Regions from separate parts of the Homo sapiens genome. Here region 2 is linked to region 1. The links come from fine-mapping of genetic effects on gene expression. Tissue or cell type: whole blood. Region 1 holds a variant in brackets; the other region holds the start of a gene. All regions are shown on one strand. Distances are from middle to middle.

Region 1 (10,233 bases):
CGTGTCTCAAAAAAAAATTATATATATATATATATATGTATATATATGAGATTTATTTGTGATTTTTTTTTTTTAGTAGCTGTTGTTTGTGTTAGTGTATTTTATATGTGGCCCAAGACAATTCCTCTTCCACTGTGGCCCAGGGAAGCCAAAAGATTGGACACACCTGGTCGAAATCTTTGGGTAAAGCATTGTCTTAGCTAGGGCATCATGATTGAACTTTTCCAGGCCTAAGAATTGAGCTTCCTCTTCTCTTATTAGAATTCAGGTTCACACTCTGATGCCATTTGGAAACACTCTTACTTTCCTTTGAAGACTGTGTTCTGTCACTTCACCTTATAAAATAAAAAAATCCTGAAACATGCCAGTGCGATTGCAGAAGAGGAGTGCCCAGCTTCATGGTCAAGTCTGACGCTCGTGTGTGCGTGTGTGCAGAGCTGTGTAGCCGTGGCTAGTGCTGGCCTCCAGGCATCCCCCGGGGCAGCAGATGGTGTACCCAGCCTTGCCCTGCTCGGTCCAGCCAGAGTGGCAGTGATGCACGCTGAGGCAACTTCTGTGATGCAACACCCGGGCAGTCCTCCAGCCCGCCGTCAAGGTGAAAAGACCCCTGCCAATTTAGGACTTCTGGGCTCTCTGAGAGCAGGGGCTTGAGAGGAAGGAGAGACTATTTTCTCATATAGTGAAACTAAAATATTACAACCTGCCATGAGCCATTGCAGCAGTGTCCCTAAGTGGCCCTGAGCGTCCCATGACACAGTCCCGAGCCCTGGATTTTGTAGGAGCTTTCCTTTTCATTCTTGGCTGGAAGGAAGCTGGTGATGCAACTGTTGTGAGCTCTGAAATATAAAAATTAACAGTCAAGGGGGCTGGGCACAGTGGCTCATGCCTATAATCCCAGCACTTTGGGAGGTCAAGGCGGGTGGATCACCAGAGGTCAGGAGTTCGAGACCAGCTTGGCCAACATGGTGAAACCCCGTCTCTACTAAAAATACAAAAAATTAGTCAGGCATGGTGGTGGGCGCCTATAATCTCAGGTACTCGGGTGGCTGAGGCAGGAGAATTGCTTGAACCCGGGAGGTGGAGGTTGCAGTGAGCGGAGGTCACGCCACTGCACTCCAGCCTAGGCAACAGAGTGAGACTCAAAAAAAAAAAAAAAAAAAAAATTACAGTCAAGGGAAACCTAGGGTCAAGGTCACTTTAAAAAGCTGTTCAGCCAAGGGCAACGGCCTTCCTGTTTTGAAGGGGTGGGGGCAGAGGATGGAGGCTCACTGGAGTTGGTTTTCATGAGCCTCCCGGTCCCCCAGCTTTCACTTCCCATTAAATAACCACGTTGTGGATGCGTAACAATTAATAAGTACAAACAGAACCTTCCAGGCAAGCCCTCTGGGCCGCTCCTTCTAGGCCTTTGGTCTTCTGAGATGTTTGGGAAGAAGGAATAATTCTGGCTTTCTTGAAAGCTGCCCTTTGCACTGTTCATTTGCCCTCTAAGTACTGATTTGCCAGCTCCTTAGAGAAAGTGGATATTAGATGTGGGAGGAGTGGGGGTCATGATCTGTTGTCCAGTGTGTCCTTATGGACAGATGCCCCAGCCCAGCCACATTTACTTACTCCGGCCTCTGCCTTCCTGTAGGACTCAGCTTATAGCTACATCACCGCTCTGCCTAATGGGAGCACTGATGTAACCAGTGCTCCTTATTTTCTCTGTAAAATATTCCAGCCCCTGCCTTCAGGAAGCTCACAGACTCTCTCTCTAGCATGCGCACACACACTTCTCACACCTGGGTTGTAGGCTTCACCAGCATCCGCTGTGTGCGCTTATAAACCTGTAAATGCCAGTTGCACATACTGTTGTTAAATAATTTAATTATAAGCTATGTAAATGTTTGCAGTGTGAATGTGAAAACCAAGATTTGTCATTTCTACAAAAGAAGTAGAATGTTTAGAAAGATATGATATTAATAAAAGTTACTTTTGCAAAAAAAAAATGCCATCGAATTAAGTATGGATGAGGCAACTGTAAAAGATTTGGGAACAAAATTTGTAAAAATCTAGGATATTCAGATTGCTTCACAAGAAGCCCGACATGGAAATCACAGATGATGCATTTTGGGTGTGATTTATGCAACAAAGATAGCATGAGACACTGGTCAGCATATTTGGTTTTTTTTTTGTTTTTTTTTTTTTTGTAGTACAACCATCTACGTTTGAGCCTACGCCAGGCAGACCCTTGCAAAGACCACACAGACAGCAAATGTGGGAGCTGGGCTTTGAAGCCACATTGGCTAATTTCAGAGCTAAGCCTTTCACCCTGTGGTTCTCTGCTTATCCTCCTGCTCATTTAGACGATAGTAAGGAGTCTCTGCTAAGACTCTAGATTAGCCATGGTGAGAGACACTGTTGCTACTGAAACTCTATGGCTTGCAGGCTGCGTGGAGTGTGCCTGCCATCCAAGTGTGTGGGAAAGAGGAGACAGATGGGAATACAGCTGCCAAGGAGCCCCAAGACCGTTTTGGAGGTCATTTGGGGGAGGAGGGGGTCACTTACCTCAATAGGTAAGTTTTTGGTGTGTATCTGTTTTAGAAAAAGATTCCTGATACAGTCACAGGCGAGCCTACACTCACATTTGTTATATTTGGTGTGTGTGGTAGTTATGTGCCCAGGAACCAAAGATTTCCACTTTACTTAGATCTTTCATTTCTTTTTTCTTTTTCTTTCTCTCTCTCTTTTTTTTTTTTTTTTTTTTGAGACGGAGTCTCATTCTGTCCCCCAGGCTGGAGTGCAGTGGCGTGATCTTGGCTCACTGCAACCTCTGCCTCCCGGGTTCAAGTGATTCTCCTGCCTCAGCCTCCTGAGTAGCCGGGATTACAGGCACCCACCACCGTGCTGGCTAATTTTTGTATTTTTAGTAGAGACAGGGTTTCACCATGTTGGCCAGGCTGGTCTCAAACTCCTGACCTCAGGCAATCGGCCCGCCTCGGCCTCCCAAAGTGTTGGGGATTACAGGCGTGAGCCACCGCACCCGGCTACTTAGATCTTTTAAACTTGAACCCTAGTGGGTACAGTAATCAATTTCACTGTGGGGGAACGGGAGCTGCTGTTCAAGCGCACAGGGTCCCTTCCATCAGCAGGCGGCAAGGGCAATGGGGAGGGAGCAACCACTGGTGTTAGGGTTCCAGCTGCTGTTTTGTAGACATCTTCAGGGACACTTTGGGGCTGGCTGTTTATTGCTGGTTGGTGTCCAGACAGAAGTCACAAGCCATTGAGTGGTTGGAGGTGGCTTTCTTATCCACCACCCATTCTTCCTCCACTTTCTAGCTGGGTCCCGTGAAGGAGCTCTTCCTAACCAGACAGCTGCGGCCTTAGATCCTGCTGATGCAGCTCCTCAGGCTCCCTCTCCTAGTTATTTGGGTATTTCCAGTATTTTGGGCTTGTACACAAGCTGCCCCTAGTTGAATTAATGCATCCCTAAGGCCATAGGAGAGGGGGTTAGTGCCTGCTGGCTTTGTGGGGAATGTCAGTTGTGTGTTTTCAAATTAGTGTTTCTTTAATGGCAAGTGGAACATTTTCTTCATTATGAGAACATGTGTTGCCTATTATCTCTGTGCTTATGAAGATGGGGGTAGGCAGTGAACTTAATAGCTTTTCAGAGCTTCTGCAGCGAGGGTTTGCGGGGAGGCCACTGGTGCAGTGAGCATGTCAGGTGGCTTCCCTGGAACAGCACTGGAAACAGTGAGCCCTCCTTATGGAAAAAGGATGCATGTTCCTACGCCAGTGCTCACCAGGGACGAGTTTGCCCCCTGGGGACATTTCTAGTTGTCATGACTTGAGGGATGTTACTGGCATCTAGTGGGTAGAGGCCAGGGAGGCTGCAAAACATCCTACAATACACAGGACACAAAAAATGATCATTCCTTTTTTTCTTGCTTTTTTCTTTTGAGACAGGGTCTCAGTCACTCAGGCTGGAGTGTGGTGGTGTGATCATAGCTCACTGTAGCCTTGAGCTCCTGAGTTCAAGCGATCCTCTCACCTCAGCCTCCTGAGTGGCTGGGACTGCAGGCATACACCGCCACACCCAGTTAATTATTTATTTATTAATTTATTTGTAGAGATGGGGTCTTGCTGTGTTGCTAGTTGGTATCGCTTAAAGCCAGAAGTTTGAGACCAAACTTAAGTGATCCTCCTGCCTCAGCCTTCCAGAGTGTTGGGATTATAGGCATGGCCATCATGCCTGGCCCAAAATGGTCATTATTGATAACAAAAAATGATCCGGTTCAAAATGTCAGCAGGGCTGAGGCCGAGATACCCCACTCTAGTGAACTCTCCTGCCCTGCACCCCTCTCCTGCAGAGATGCCTGAGAGCGTTCTCCTCTCCTCTGGTTCTGTCTGGCTCCTAATTAGCCTTCGAGCAATGTCAGCTCTCGGGAACAGCAGAGATGCACAGTGACTTACTGTGACGGCGGCACACTTTCACCAAAGCAGTTCTTCAGTCTGGCTTCCTCAGCCCTTCCCCTCCACGCTGCAGAAGCTGGGCCTGACAAAACGTCTTTTCAGTCCTCGCTCGCCACCTGCCCACACTGTAGCCCCCAAGAATGCCTGCCATTAGTCCCCTGCTATGCAGGGAGATGGCAGCTGCCTGCAAATGAGGCAGCTTGGAGGGACAGGACAATGCCACTCGAAGGACCCACCGTCCTGCCTGTCGCTGCCAGGTCTCTGCAGCAAGGGGCAATCTGACTTCGGACTTTAGGGGGCAAGGAAACTTTGCTTTTCTTATTTCCTCCCTACCCCCCCAAATATGCATTAAACAATTTGTATTCTGTTTGTGACTTTAATGTGCCTCTTTGTCCTCAGCTGGGAATGTCTCCAGCTTGTCGTAGTGAGAGAGAGCCCTTGGTATCCGTAGAAGCAGGCTTGGATTTTGGCTCTACTGCTGACCAGCAATGTGGCCCTCAGCAAGGTTGTTAACCCTCCTGAGCCTCAGGTGTTTTCATTTGTAACATGGGGCTGATAATGCCTACCACAGAGGGTTGCTGTCAGGACAGT[G/A]TTCCCTGCACCATTTTATCTGTGTCCATCCAACCAATCTTTGTAAGCTGCTCAAGGGCCTGGCACCTGTCTTCACCGTCCTTGAAATCACGTTAGTTTTTGCTGCACGGTAGGATGTGGGCCGTGGACTGCGGCGCACCCCCAGAAAGATAGGTTGATGTCCTAATCCCTGGCGCCCGGGAATGTGACCATTTGGACACAGGGTCTTTGCTGATGTAATCCAGTTAGGATGAGGTCATTAAGGTGGGCCCTAATCCAATAGGACTGGGGTCTTTATAGGAAGAGGGAAATTTAGACACACACACACAGGAATGCCTTCACACGTGTCTTATGGGAAGATGGACACACACAGGCCGTGAGCCTAGCACAACAGAGGCAGAAATTTGAACAATGCAGCTGCAAGCCAAGGAATGCTGGAGTCACCAGCAGCAAGGAGAAGGCAAGGAAGGACTCTCCCTGTAGGTTTTAGAGGGAGCACGGCCCTGCCGACATCTGGATTTCAGATTTTTAGCCTCCAGAACTACGGTTGCTTTAAGCCAGCCAGTTTGGGTTGCTTTGTTACAGCAGCCCCCAAAAGCCAATACAAATACTCAGTGGACGCTTGTGGATCGTGTGTCTTCATATGCAAAATGTATGGTGCTGGGCCTCAGCAGTCATGCTTTGGCAGCCCAGCCCCTGGATGGTTCACTTCTTCCTTTCCACTGATGATTCCTTCACAGATCACCCACAGATCATACTGGCTGATTTTGTGCTGCTTTATTAGAAAAGCATTTGCTTGTTATGGGAGAAAGTTTTTACATGTACCACGTTGAATCGGGTTATGTTTTTGCCATAAAGTATTTGTGCCTCTCTAAGCAGTGGCATCAAGTGACCAACTTAGATTTCTTTTAGCAACACGTTGGTTCCTGGTTCTGGGAAGAAGCATGAGAGGCCATTGCTCCTTTCTTTCTTCTCCTTTCAAGAAGCAGAACCAAATCAAAGTGGCTCTAAAAATAAGAAAATGAATATGCTTGCAAAACTGGGGTGCCAGGCCCAGAGGAAGAGCAGGTTCGGGTTGGTGGCTAAGGGACATCACTGGAGACTCAGGCCCTTTCTCTTCTGTCCACAGCAGTGTCATCCTGAGGCAGGTGTCCCCATGGCCATAGGATGGCTGATGGCAGCAGCTGCACAGTCTGCTTCCTTGTTTGTGGCCTGTGGAACCCTTTGGTGTGTTTCTCTTAAGATCAGGAAAACATTCCCCAGAGGCCTCCCCAGCAGCCTCCTCTCCATGTCTTTGTCCCATCCCTGAAGCAGCCACTGCCAAAGGGGATGGAGTTAGCATCATGGGCCTAGACCGATCATGTGAGGGCGAATGGGTGCTGCAGTCAGCCACAGTGCCCTGCCACACTCTCCAGATTCACAACTCTTACCTTTTTTTAATGGCCATGATAAGGATGCCCCAAAGATGTCCACGTTCTAACCCCTAGAACCTGTGAATGTTACTGTACGTGGCCAAAGGGGTCTCTGCTGATGTGTGGTGATGTGGTTAAGGGTCTTGAGGCAGGGAGGTGATCCTGGATGATCCAGGTGGGTCCCACATAATCACAAGGATTCTCATAAGAAGGAGGCAGGAAAATTGGAGGCGGAGAGAGAAGATGTAAGGACAGAAGCAGAAGTCAGAGAAGGGAGTAGATTGCACCGCTGGCTTTGAAGATGGACAAAGGGGCCACGAGCCAAGGAGTGCAGGCAGCCTCTAGAAGTGGGAAAAGGCAAGGAAATAGATTCTCCCCTGCAGCCTCCAGAAGGAATGCCAGCCCTGTGGTACCTGACACCCTGATATTAGACCAGTGAAACTGATTTTGGACTTCTGACTTCCAGAACTATAAGATAATAAACTTCTGTTGTTTTAAGCCACTAAGCTCGTGGTCATTTATTACAGCAGCAAAGGGAAACGAATACAGCATTGTATCTCTAGGCTGACCAGGAATCAATATAGAACTTTGCTAAGATTAAGCATCTTGTTTTTATTTTATATCTTTTAAACAAGTATGTGGGGATTAAACAAGATACAAACCCAGTCCCTGGTCCTGCCTCCAGATAGGGCCAGCCTGGTGGTTTGCTCTCAAAATGGTAAATGTCCGTTCCTTTATTCAACACCAGTGCTAGGTACCGAGAACACAGAAGTAGGGCCTTGTCTTCACTCAAGCTGCTGTGTGTGCCTCAGCCAGCCATTTGTTTCCACAAATATGCCCACTCGCAAATGGGAGCTCTTCCAGATGTCTTCTGTCTTTGTAGCTCAAGCCAGTTTCCTCTGAAGCTTATTCAAACCTGCTGATTTTTGTTTAAGTTCTTGCAAGGGTTAGGAAGAGCATAAGATGTTAAGCACTTCCACAGATGGACCTATTTTTAGGGTGCCCCATGTTGCCGAGATCAGCAGTGATTCTAATAGCTCAGTCCTGGGGTCCACAGAGGATGTCATCTGCCTCCTGTCTTCGTGCCAGTTGGACAGAGACACTGCTGTTTGGAAGTTTTCTTTGTGGTTCTTTATTTCCTCTCCTCTCTAGGGCTTCCTGTTCTACAGAGGCACATACATTATGTCTAGAAATTGTTTTTATTGTACCATAGTTCAGCTATTTCCTTTCCTTTCCTTTCCTTTATTTCTTTTGTTGTTGTTGTTGAGACAGAGTCTCAGTCTGTTGCCCAGGTTGAAGTGCAGTGGCGCAGTCTCAGCTCACTGTAACCTCCACCTCCTGGGTTCAAGCGATTCTCAAGCTACTCCTCCCAAGTAGGTGGGATTACAAGCATGTGCCACCACACCTGGCTGATTTTTGTATTTTTAGTAGAGATGAGGTTTCATCATGTTGGCCAGGCTGGTCTCGAACTCCTGACCTCAGGTGATCCGCCCGCCTCAGCCTTCCAAAGTGCTGGGGTTACAGGCGTGAGCCACTGAGCCCGGCCAGTTCATCTGTTTCTGAGAAGCCTTGGGCTTTCCTGGGGATAATAAGTGACCAGTGGCAATCTATGGGAAATACCTGGGAAGGTGACAGAAGCAGTGAAGCAGAGAAACGGAGTGGGGGCACTGACATTTGAGATGATCTTTTCCAACATCATAATTCTATCTTGAGGAAACTGAGGCATGAATTATCCATGAAGCAGCTCTCCATCCCTGAACTCCCTATAGTAGCTTAGCAAGGATGGAGCGCAATCCCTGTTGGTACTGATTAGACAGGGCCAGGCTCTAGAAGCAAAATATGAGAGCTGGCTTTAAAGCACCAACACCCGTAATAGCGTGTAGACCAATAAGTTTGGTGTACATTGTTCTAGGCTCTCGTCTCTGCTCTGTCCCATCTCCCTTTGTCCATCACAAGTGCCATATACCTGAGGGGATAAATGCATTGACGCTGGAGCTTAAGCCTAGGTTTGAGTTCCACTTACTAGTGACATAACCTGGGACAAATCACTTGGGCATTTTTCCTTTCTATAACATGGGATGGTCACAGTACTGATGCGGCTGGAGGTGCTGCGAGGATTAAATGAGTTGAAGTGTGCAGAGTACTCACAGCAGTGCCTGGCACATCCTAAGCGCTGTACGTCTTCCTGCAACCTTAAACGTTGTTCTCCAGTGTTTTAAATTACCACGTGCAATTCCATCGCATGGTGGTGCTCTATGGTTGATTTAACCAGATCCCTGTAATGGGATTTTGTTTCCAGTCTTTTGACGCTGTGAACAACATTTCGATGACTACCCTTGTAGGTAAGGACTTTCTTTCACTCTTAATCATTTCCGCAGGTTAAATTTCTGAAATGAGAATTGCTGGGTCAAAGAAAAATATTTCAAGGCTTTTCTTGATAGACGCTACCACATTTTGCTCCAGGAAAGTAGTAGTTTACACTCTTACCATCAGTGAGTGAGTGTGCCAGTTTCCTTGTGTGGCCGGGTTATTAACTTTTAATCAAACGAAGGCCCAGAAAGAAATAGGAAATATTTCCCGGGGAATAAAACGTTCCTCGTCTTTGCTTATATGCAGTAAAAAGCTCAGAACTTGGAGAGCGCAGAAGGCGGGGCAGAGTGTGTGAAAACGGCGCCCTCTGCTGGCTCTCCCTGGTGTGAACAGTGGTAGATGGCAACGCTGAGATGGCCGTGGCATCCCCTGCTCTTTGGAGGCAGGTACAGTTTTAAGAGACTCTGGTCATAAAAGTCAGATTCGGGCAACACTTGGCCCTCGCTTGGGTTCTTTTACAGCACTGGTTTCAACAGGAGTGATTTGTTGCCCAACACTTGGTACTCTCTGGAGACATTTTGGAGGATCACAAGTCTGGAGGTGAGGTTAAAGGAAGTCTGCTGTTGACTTCTGGTGGGTAGAGGCCAAGGATACTGCTAAACATCTCACACTGCACAGCCCAGTCCAGCCCAGCAACAAAGCAACATTCAGCCCAGGATGTCAACATTGTCCAGATTGAGAAAACCTTGTTTTTAGAGGAATAGAGGCCTTGCCCTCAGAAGGTTTCTCTCTTCAGACTGAAATAAAATATAGAAATATTAATATACGATATATATGTCACAGTTACTATTATTTGGTTGTAGAAACTTGATGGTTTTGCAAAATGAAATGGAAAACATGTGGAGCTGAAATAGTAAATGGGGATTTCTAGAAGAGAGGGCACAGGAAAATCCAACCCATAGTAATGTCACGAGTACTAATAAGAGAGGGAATGTTCTTCTACCAATTCAACATGGTTAAACCTGCCACAGATCCCTGTGGCTTTCCCCTGAAGGTCTTGTCTGTTAAAAATAGTGCTTTATTTGACACTTTTCCCCAAATTCACAAACACCAGTGTTTTCGTAATGTTCATAATTGTGCCCTCCAGTGTTCAGCGCAGAACTACCATGTGTGGTTATAATTTGCTCTCCCACGCCCCAGTAAATGCTGATTCAAGCATTGTTTTTAAGAGGGAGAAGGAAGAGAAGAGCTTTAAAAATAATGTTAGAGAAGGTGTGCCTGAAGGGGAAAAGTATGATGAGAATTTCGGGAAAATCAAACTGGGCTGCAACTTCCTTCATTATTTGCTGAGCTTGAAGACTGGTGTTGCTCAAGCCCATTTAAAAAATGTCCTATTACTGGCTGGGCATGGTGGCTCACGCCTGTAATCTTAGCACTTTGGGAGGCTGAGGTGGGTGGATCACCTGAGGTCAGGAGTTCGAGACCAGCCTGG
Region 2 (10,233 bases), 58 kb after region 1:
TGTCGTGGCTGGTTTGATCTTTTGTCCCAACCACTAAAACTTTCTCCATATCAGCAATAAGACAGTTTCACTTATCATTTGTGTGTTTAGTGGAGCAGCACTTTTAATTTCCTTAAAAAAACCTTTAATTTCCTTTGCATTCACAACTTGGCTAACCAGCGGAAAAGGCCTTGCTTTCTACCCACCTTGGCTTTCAACATGCCTTCCTCACTAAGCTTAATCATTTCTAGCTTTTGATTTAAAGGAAGAGACGTGTAACGGATTTAAAGTGAGAGACATGTAACTCTTCCTTTCACTTGAACACTTAGAGGCTATGGTATGGTCGTTAATTGTCCTAATTTCACTGTTGCTGCGTCTTAGGGAATAGGGAACCCTGAGGAGAGGGATAGAGGCGGAGGAACTATTGGTCGGTGAAACAGTCAGCACACGCACATTTATCGATTAAGTCTGCTGTCTTATGTGGGCATGGTTTTTTTGTGCCCCAAAACAATGACAATAGTAACATCAAAGGTGACTGATCACAGTTCACCACAACTGTGTGTAGATAGAGTAATAATAAAAAAAAGTTTGAAATATTGCAAGAATTGCCAAACTGAGAAACAGAGACAGGGAGTGAGCACATGCTGTTGGAAAAATGGTGCCCACAGACTTGCTCAGCACGGGGTTGCCACAAACTTTCAATCTGTGAAAATACAATATCTGCCAAGCACAATAAAACAAAATGCAATAAAATGAGGTAGGCCTGCATCTGACAACTGTCAGGAAATAAGTCTCCTAGCTACCCCTTGAAGGGCAAGTGATTTCTGAGGCTGAGGTGTGGGACTGAAGAAACAAAGTCTATTTCTCAGAAGGCAGTCATCATAATTCTCACCTACCTTGTAGCAATCGTATCTCTCATAGGAGGTGCCCCCAGGAGAGTCAGGGAAGATGTATGGCTGTGGATGCTGACGGTACCAGAATTCTTCCTCGGCCTCCTTCAGCAGCTGGGTGGCCTTCGCCATATCCTTTTCATTCTTATGTTCTTCAAACCGGGCTCTCATCAAACAAGCAAAGTATCGGTATTTGTCTCTTAAACCAAAATGATTTTGAAGATTAGAAATGTTACCTACTCACGTGGTCAGTGTTGCTGTCTGACAGGAGGCTGCACTTCTGATACCTTCTGGATGGGCAGTGGACCTACCCCAACCCTCCCAATGGAGCAGCCGTATCATCATGGCTGCTTCCTCTACAGCCCACCAAACAGCAGCAGCAAAAAAATACTGTATTAAATATATACCCTAACCATTTTTCTCCTCTTACATCCAACAATGGAATGAGGATTTAAACAAAAAAAAAAAAAAAAAAAAAGAAAAGAGCATTCGCAAGAGAAAAGCTATAACCTCTGCAGGATCATTCAACATTCATTGAATGACAACTTCCATTTCCTTCTATCTTGTGCTAGTCACTATGCTAAATTCTGGAGATACAAAGATGAATAAGAAAGGTGTTACTTGGCAGAAACAGTATTGCTTAGCTCATACAGAGCTAGGTTTGTATCCTGACTCTGACACTAGCTGCATAAACTTAGGCAAGTTAAAGTCAAGTTCTAAAGAAACTGGGCAAAGATCAGTTAGGAGGTTTTGACAATAATCTAGGACACAGCTGACGAGGGCCTGAAAGTACGGAGCTGTGATGGTGACAGGAGACAGGGGAGACATTGAGACTTCCAAGTTATGAGAATAGGCTCTCCAGTCAGACTGTATGGGCCTGAATCTTAGCTCTGCCACTACTAGCTGTGTAACTTGGGGTAAGTTACTGTCTTCTGGTCAGGTGCGGTGGCTCACACCTGTAATCCCAGCACGTTGGGAGGCCAAGGCGTGTGGATCACCTGAGGTCTGGAGTTCAAGACAAGCCTGATCAACATGGAGAAACCCCGTCTCTACTAAAAATACAAAAATGAGGCCGGGCATGGTGGCTCACGCCTGTAATCCCAGCACTTTGGGAGGCCAAGGCAGGGGGATCATCTGAGGTGAGGAGTTCTACACCAGCCTGGCCAACATGGTGAAATCCCGTCTCAGCTAAAAATACAAAAACTAGCCGGGCGTGGTGGCAGGCACCTGTAATCCCAGCTACTCTGGGGGCCAAGGCAGGAGAATAGCTTGAACCCGGGAGGCAGAGGTTGCAGTGAGTCGAGATTGTGCCATTTGCACTCCAGCCTGGGGGACAAGAGCGAGACTTCATCTCAAAAAAAAACAACAACAACAACAACAAAAAGGCCAGGCACGGTGGCTCACGCCTGTAATCCCAGCACTTTGGGAGGCTGAGGTGGAGGTCACCTGAGGTCAGGAGTTCAAGACCAGCCTGGCCAACATGGCAAAACCCCGTCTCTACTAAAAATACAAAAATTAGCCAGGCGTGGTGGCGCATGCCTGTAATCCCAGCTACTCGGGAGACTGAGGCAGGAGAATTGCTTGAACCCGGGAGACGGAACTTGCGGTGAGCCAAGATCGCGCCACTGCACTCCAGCCTGGGCAACATAAGCGAAACTCCGTCTAACAAAAAAACAAACAAAAAAAGTCTTCTAGGCCACGGGTTCCTCCTCTGTAAAACAGTGGCAATAACAGTGTGTATATCTTAAGGTTGTCATAAACAGTCAATAAGATAAACACACTTTAAAAAGTGCCTGGTACATCCCAAGTGTTAAATAATGTCAGTTACTAATATCATACTGGAAAGAGAATTTATAAAAACCAGTGTCTAATTATACATGGTGTATGAGTATGTGTGTTATTGGCAAAGGAATAAGGAGCAAATACTTGAGAACAATTCTGAGACTTAAAGCTCAGTAACTGAATTACTAATAATACCATTAGCGGAGGCAGGGAATTTGGGAAAAGAGTCAGAATGGGGAGTGACAGGAAAACAAGTTTGATTTCAAAGAATTTAGATAAATGGAGATTGAGAGAACGGTTGGTGATCTTTTCAATTTTTTTTTTATTATTATTTTTTGAGACAAAGTTTCACTCTTGTCGCCCAGGCTGGAGTGCAATGGGGCTATCTCGGCTCACTGCAGCCTCTGCCTCCCAGGTTCAAGCGGTTCTTCTGCCTCAGCCTCATGAGTAGCTGGGATTACAGGCACCCACCACCACGCCTGGCTAATTTTTGTATTTTTAGTAGAGACGCGGTTTCACATGTAGGCCAGGCTGTTGAACTCCTGGCCTCAGGTGATCCACTCACCTCAGCCTCCCAAAGTACTGGGATTATAGGCGTGAGCCATCATGCCCAGCCAACAGTCGTGATCTAACAAGCAATTCGAACTACAGCTCTAGAGACAAATGAGCGCAGGTGGTGACAGCACTAAATGAGGCTGCCCGAGTACATACAACAACACAGTATGCCTAGGATGGAACCACAGAGAACAGCACAATGAGGGCAAATGGAGGAAGAAATTAAGGCAAGGATTGAGAAAGAATGTCAGATCTAAAAAATGCTGAGCCATAACTGTCATAGTAGCTAGTTTATATCATTTTCCTCTAGAACTATGGACTTTAGTATTCCCAGCTATAGTTCAGTATTGCTTGAATTCTTTTTTTCATGTTTAACTTTTTTTGACACATAATTATTGTACCTATTTATGGGGTACATGTGATATTTTAATACATCCATATAATGTATAATGATCAAATCAGGGTAATTTGGATATTCATCACCTCAAACATTTACCATTTGTGTTGGGATACCTGAATCCCTGATGGCTCAACTTCCTTCATCATCGATTTGTTTACATGTCCATTTTCCCCACTAATCCGTGAGCTGCTGCTGCTCAAAAATGGATTTACTAACATTTATATATTTAGCATAGAGCATAGAATCTGAATTGCAAATTCTGTCAAATCAATAAATAAATAAGGAAAACTCAAGGAAGAAACTAACAATCCCATCACATTGTACTTGGCCATCTTCCTGCCAAATCAAGAGAAGTATGTCAGTGATTTTCTAATAGTCACATATATGCAATCTGGGCTTCGAGGGTACCCTCTGTAATTCTTCCAGGCCTACTCCATTTTCCATAGAGTTTTTTTCCCAGAAGGCCTTCTTATAAAACTACGTTTGGAGAGTCGTAAGACTGGAGTGGAGGCGAGGCACTCACACATCTTGGGTTGTTAGCCCACCCTGCAATGAATTTAGGTGATTAAAATCTACACATTTTAACACTATGTTCTCAGACTAGTCTCAGACGGATAGAGGTCGAAAGAGAATTATGTAAGAGGTGAAAAAGATGTAAAGGTAATGAAAAGGACTAGATGAAGCTAAAAAGAGAAAAGCTAATGGGAGGGGTGGGAGAATGATGATGCTTTGGAGAAAGACCTAAATTTTAACCCTGGCTCAGACACTTAGAAACTCTATCACCTTGCGCAAGTTACCAGCTGTGCTCATCTTCTTATCTGTAAAATAAGCTTAAGATAATTCCTAACTCCTAGAGTTTTGCAGACTGAAGAAAATAATGCATAGTTTATTGCTGTTAATATTGGAAAGGAGAAGATCGTGAAGAAAACGATTGAGCGAGCGCTGGACCCATGACAATTACAATTTTAGGCACTTTCCTTTATTTCACTTAATTTTCCTGCGACCCTCTGCGCTGGTCGTGCGTCCGTTTTACTAAACAAAAAGCTGACGCCCAGACCCGACAAGCAACTCTACAAGGTCTCCCGGCCATAAGTGGCGAAGCCTGGATTTGAACCCGGGTCTACCATAGGATTCTGTGAAGCGAGAGGCCACCTTCCAATTCCGTTCCCGAAGTCCTTGAACCTCCAGGTACCCAGGGGCCTCTCCACCTCCATGGGGCCCCGAGGGTCACCTCCCCGAGTCCTGGGTCCCCATCCCTTACCTCTGGACGCACCACGACTCGAGGTGGCGTAGCGCCCGCTTATAAAGCCGCAACACCTTTTGCTGATGGGTCAGGTAGGGTCCCGACGCCAAGAACGCCATTACGGCGCTGACCTTCCCCGGCCGCGCGGAGAGCCGGGAAACTGCACGCCTGCTGCGGGTGACTGAGCGGGGCCAGCCGGAAGGGCGGAGTTGCCGGCGGCCACTTCCGCTTCCGCTGGGGAGGTCCTCCATGCGCAGTCATGAGTCGCTTCAAGTTTATCGGTAAGAGGAGCGTTTTCCACGCCCTTGGGTCTTTCTGACTTGTCCCGGGCGTCGGTCACCAAGGTCACAGGACCCAGGAATTGCGCCCTCCGGCATTGTAAGGGTTGAAAGGGCCGCTCAGTGGAGGAGGGCGCGGGGAGGTTTCTGGGTGCTGGTAATGCTCTGGTTCTTGATCTAGGTTCTGGATTCACGAGGGTGTATTTATTTGTAAAAATTAACAAGCCGTACAGTTATGATTTTTGTGCTGTTTTCAACATCTGTAATGTATTCAGTTTTTTAAGAAGAAAACTCCAAAAAGGCCAATCACTATGTTTCCATTCATCCCACGTGCACCTCCCGGCCCTTCCCCTCTGCCTTGGCGGAGAGGCTGACCGCTTCTGGGGACCAATTCACTCAAGCATTCATTCGTTCATATCATAGTTAGTGAGCGCCTCAAGTGGGCCTGGCACTGGCCTAGGAACACAGGGCACAAAGCTCCCAGTTGTACTGTCATCACCATCTGGTGGAGAAACTAGAAAACACAAGTAATGGGGAGAAAAACAAACTGTACTTGGCAAGTACAATGATCCAGTCGGCATCAGTAGAACGAGAGGGAGAATGCTGCGGGATTTAAATGGGCATGATCCTCGTTTTGTGGGGTTTCCAGCTACCTGAAGGTGGGAAATGACAGTGATCACACCTCTGCTTTAGCAAGGTAATCCTGATAGCTATTATGTAGGTTTTGTGGGAAATAGGGAGAGGTAGGGAAGCATTTCAAGAGCTTAAACTAGGGTAATGGAAAAGAGAGAGAAATGGAAGAGATGTGTGCAGCATTTAGCAGCTGAGTGTTCATGGCCGGTAGTAGAGAGTGAACAAAGATGACTCAGGGTTTGGAAAAGTACTTAAATATGAAATGGAAGCATGACTAGTTTGGCGGTGAAGAGAGGTACCCAGGTCCATTTGGATTAGGTTAAGTTTGAGATAATTATAGGACATCCAGGTAGAGATATCTGGGCAATTGGGAATGTGGTCTGGCAATCAAGAGATTAGGATTATACATTTAGATCTGAGAGTTATTTAAGCAGTATTTTTTTTTTTCAAAGACGTTGTGCTAAGTCCTGTGGAACTGTAAAATCTAGTGGTGCAGTTTTCAGACTGGAGACCTAAGACCTATGTACTGTACAGTCAAAAGCAAATGCAGGGGAGAATATGTTAAGTGCCAGGAAAAAGGTTTTGAAATTGCTGTGGGAAAGCCTGGAGTAGGGGTTTGGGGAGGGGTTGTCAAATAAGACATTGCCGTGTCTTAGCCTTTCCATCCTAACCTTTGATATAATTGATGAGGGAGATGGAATAAAGAGCCATGAAGTACTCCGTAAAGAAAGGCCACATAACTTTTTAAAAGTGTGTTTATGTTATACAACCAAATTCCTGCCTCAAGTTAATGTCTTAAATCCATCCTCCATGTAGACTCCATTTTGGTGTATCTAAAAATCAAATCAGCTAAATGTTTCTTTTGCTTCAAATCTTTCATTTACGCTCCTCAGGATAGCCTAAATGCTTACACACCATACAAAGCCCTTCTGTGGTCCAGTCCTGCCCACTTTTCTAGCCCATCCCTGGGCTGCTCTATAAACACTTGTGCATGCTGTTTGTTACCTCTGACAAGGTTTTAGAGTGGCAGTTTGGGGCCAAAATATTCCTCTGCCTACCAACTACCCTGTTGCCTGTCTGCCTACTCACTCCTTAAAACTTATACCACATTATTTATAATTAAATATGAGTATGCCTTTCCCACTAGATCAAACTCTTAAGGCAGATACTGGTATGGTATTTATATTTTTTTCCTAGGGGCGTAGTACAATGACTGTTTGGGAAAGTATGAATGAGTGGCTTTAGTGCTAAGGTGATAAGAAAATTAGTAAAGGGATTAGCATCAGATAAAATAAGCAAGAAAAGACTTCTTAAAGAAGGTGACTTTATTGGAATAAATAATTGAAATAAATTTTTTTCTGTATGGTTTCCTTTAGCCCCACTCTCCTAAAGTAACCATATTAAAAGTTTGAAGTATAGCCTTCCCTAATTTTTTAATAGATTGTTATACAGATTCATAAAAATACAACATATCAAGGTTTTTTTTTTTCCTTTTGAAACAGAAATGAGATCATATTATGCATTCTATCCTTGGTATATGACTTACTCTGATATTTAATCTTTCAGTTTGTGTCATTTAAAAAATTCTGCCCATGAATCGCTAGACTAATTTCTTAGCCTAATAATGAGTTCTGAACAATATTTTGAAAAACATCATATTAAATCCCTGGAACAAGCTTCACATGGGACAATTGCATGAAAAATTGAACCCATTTTATGAAAATTACCTTAGATTTTGGTTTAAGACAGCTGACCATTGTAATTCTTTCTACATTTCTCTCTTTTCTACTTGCATAACAAGTGGCTGCCCCTTAGAACTATACCCCAACAGTGGGGGTTTTTGTTTGTTTTGAGACAGGGTCTTGCTCTGTCACCTAGGCTGGAGTACAGTGGCTTAGATCATGGCTCCAGCATTGACCTCCTAGGCTCAAGTGATCTTCCTGCCTCATCCTCCCAAGTAGCTGAGACTAGAGGTGCTCACCACCATACCAGGCTAATTTTTTTTTGTAGACCACTGTGTCCTGCTATGTTGCTCAGGCTGGTCTTGAATTGCTGGCCTTAAGCAGTCCTTCCACCTCCGCCTCCCAAAGTTCTGGGATTACACGTGGAGCCACTGGCCAGCATGAGAATTTCTTTAGCCCAGCTTATACTCTCTTTTCTGTCTCCACAAGTGGAATTCTATTCCCTGGGTGTTATTTACAAACTCTTCCACTCTCAAAAATACTTCTACCTGTAACTATTATATGCCAGAATCTCTACTGCATTGATCTTAGACTACATAGTACACCAAAAAATGAGAAATATCTGTGCAAGAAGAAAATGCAAAATACAAACAACAGTGAAAATAAAAACATCATATTCCATTCCTGATATAGTTTAGATATTTGTCCCCTCCAAATCTCATGTTAAAATTTGCTCTCCAATGTTGAGGTGGTCCAGTGGGAGGTGTTTGGGTCACTTCCCAACATCCATCTCATGGGGGTGGATCCCTCATGAAAGGCTTGATGGCCTCCCTGTGGTAATGAGTTCACACTGGCTCCCCTTCCCTTTCCACCAGGATTGGAAGCTTACTGAGATCCTCCCAAAAGCAGATGTTGGTGTCATGCATCTTGTACAACCTGCAGAACCATGAGCCAAATACACCTCTTTTCTTTATAAATCACCCAGTCTCAGGTATTCCTTTATAGCAATGCAAAAGCAGATTAATACAGTTCCTCCAAATCACACATAACACCACCATGTCTATCTTTCCAGATCTTCTGTAGGCATACCAAACAAAATAAGATCATACTGAGGCTACTCTTTTGTGCTCTGCTTTTTTCAATCACAGTCTCCACCTTTCCATTTCAGGAAATGTTCATCTTAACTAGTACCAAAATCATACTCAAATTTTTCCTGTTGTTCCAAAAATGTCCCTTGGTGGTCATGTCCAAAATGGTATCCCATTTAGAGCCACACATTTGGTTGTTCCTTAAATTTTTGAATCAAGTGCAGAGGTTTGCAAACTTTTTCCTTAAAGGGCCATATAGTAAATATTTTAGACTTTGAGGGCCACGTGATCTCTATTGCAGCTATTCAACTCTGCCCTTTTGTGTACTGTGATGTAATAGTAAATACGTGTGTGTTCTCTGCTCCCATTTCTTTGTGCACAACTCCTGAAACCCTTGGAATCTCCTAAGTGCTAAGTGTCTTTTTGTATGCTGCTAAGATGACTGATGGCTGGGGGCTCCTGGATAGCCTCAGGATGGGGGTTTGCCTAGGAAAACCCATCATGTGATTAGAGAGTTGGAAGTTTCAGTCCCTCCCACCCACTCCCACTTCTGGGGAAGGGGAGAGAAACTGAAGGTTGAGTTGTTCACTAATGGCCAGTGATTTAATCAATCATACCTACATGGTGAAGCCTCTATAAAAACCCATACATGTCTCTATGTGTCTCTTCCACCTGGCCGTTTTTGAATGGCATCTTTTTACAATGAATGGGTAATAAGTAAAGTGCTTTCCTGAGTTCCGTGAGCTGCTCTAGCAAATGATCAAACCTGAGAAGGGGGTTGTGGGAACCTCTTATTGTAGCCAAGTTAGACAAGTTGTGGGTAACCTGGGAACCTACTGCTTGTAATTGGTATCTGAAATGGGGAGAGTCTTGTGGGACTGAGCCCTTGACCTCTGCGGTCTGATGTTATATCCAGGTAGATAGTGTGAGAATTGAGTTAAATTATAGGTCACCCAGCTGGTGTCAGAGAATTGGTTGTTGGGAGAGGAAACCCCACACATACCTGACGTCAGAAGTGAATCCTCACGCCTGTAATCCAAGCACTTTGGGAGGCCAAGGTGGGAGGACTGCTTGAGCCCGGGAGTTCAAGACCAGCCTGGGCAACAAAGTGAGACCCCATCTCTACTTAAAACAAACAAACAAAAAATTCAGAGTATTGTGAGTATGAGAATACTGTAGGAGAAAGCAGTTTGCATTTTTTCCTATCTCACACCTTGTCATTCAAAAGCAGGTGATAGACAGTATGTAAATAGGTGTGGCTATGTTCCAGTAAAACTTACGGTCACTGAAACTTGAAGTTCTTATAATTTTGATGTGTCACAAAATATTCTTTTGATTTTCTTCAACTATTTAAAAATGTAAAGTCATTCTTAGCTTAGAGGCAAACAAAAGTAGGCAGTGGCTTGTGGGCCTTAGTTTACCAATCCCTTGCTCTAGCGCATTTCTTTTTTTTTTTTTTTTTTTTTTTTTTTTTTTTTTGAGACGGAGTCTCGCTCTGTTGCCCAGGCTGGAGTGTAGTGGTGCAGTCTGGGCTCACTGCAAGCTCCGCCTCCCAGGTTCACGCCATTCTCCTGCCTCAGCCTCCCGAGTAGCTGGGACTACAGGCGCCCACTACCACGCCCGGCTAATTTTTTGTATTTTTAGTAGAGACGGGGTTTCACTGTGTTAGCCAGGATGGTCTCGATCTCCTGACCTCGTGATCC

The links. PIP is the estimated chance that this variant, and not a neighbour inherited with it, causes the effect.
Region 2: TATDN1 starts here. The variant in region 1 is fine-mapped to the expression of TATDN1 in whole blood (INTERVAL, PIP above 0.99).

Annotation. Positions count from the first base shown.
Region 1 is chr8:124,591,993-124,602,225 of GRCh38, reverse strand. All of the region lies in intron 3 of MTSS1 (MTSS I-BAR domain containing 1), which reads left to right. Among named protein-coding and RNA genes, the nearest start is that of NDUFB9, 58 kb to the right of the region's middle. RefSeq lists an enhancer at 9,151-9,430. The variant G/A (reference allele first, on the strand shown) is at 5,041.
Region 2 is chr8:124,533,922-124,544,154 of GRCh38, reverse strand. TATDN1 (TatD DNase domain containing 1) reads left to right here and starts at 5,070. Exons shown (of 12, transcript NM_032026.4): 1 at 5,070-5,130. The coding sequence starts at 5,109. It overlaps NDUFB9 (NADH:ubiquinone oxidoreductase subunit B9), which reads right to left and starts at 5,032. Exons shown (of 4, transcript NM_005005.3): 1 at 4,868-5,032; 2 at 876-1,068. The coding sequence starts at 4,968. RefSeq lists an enhancer at 5,140-5,209.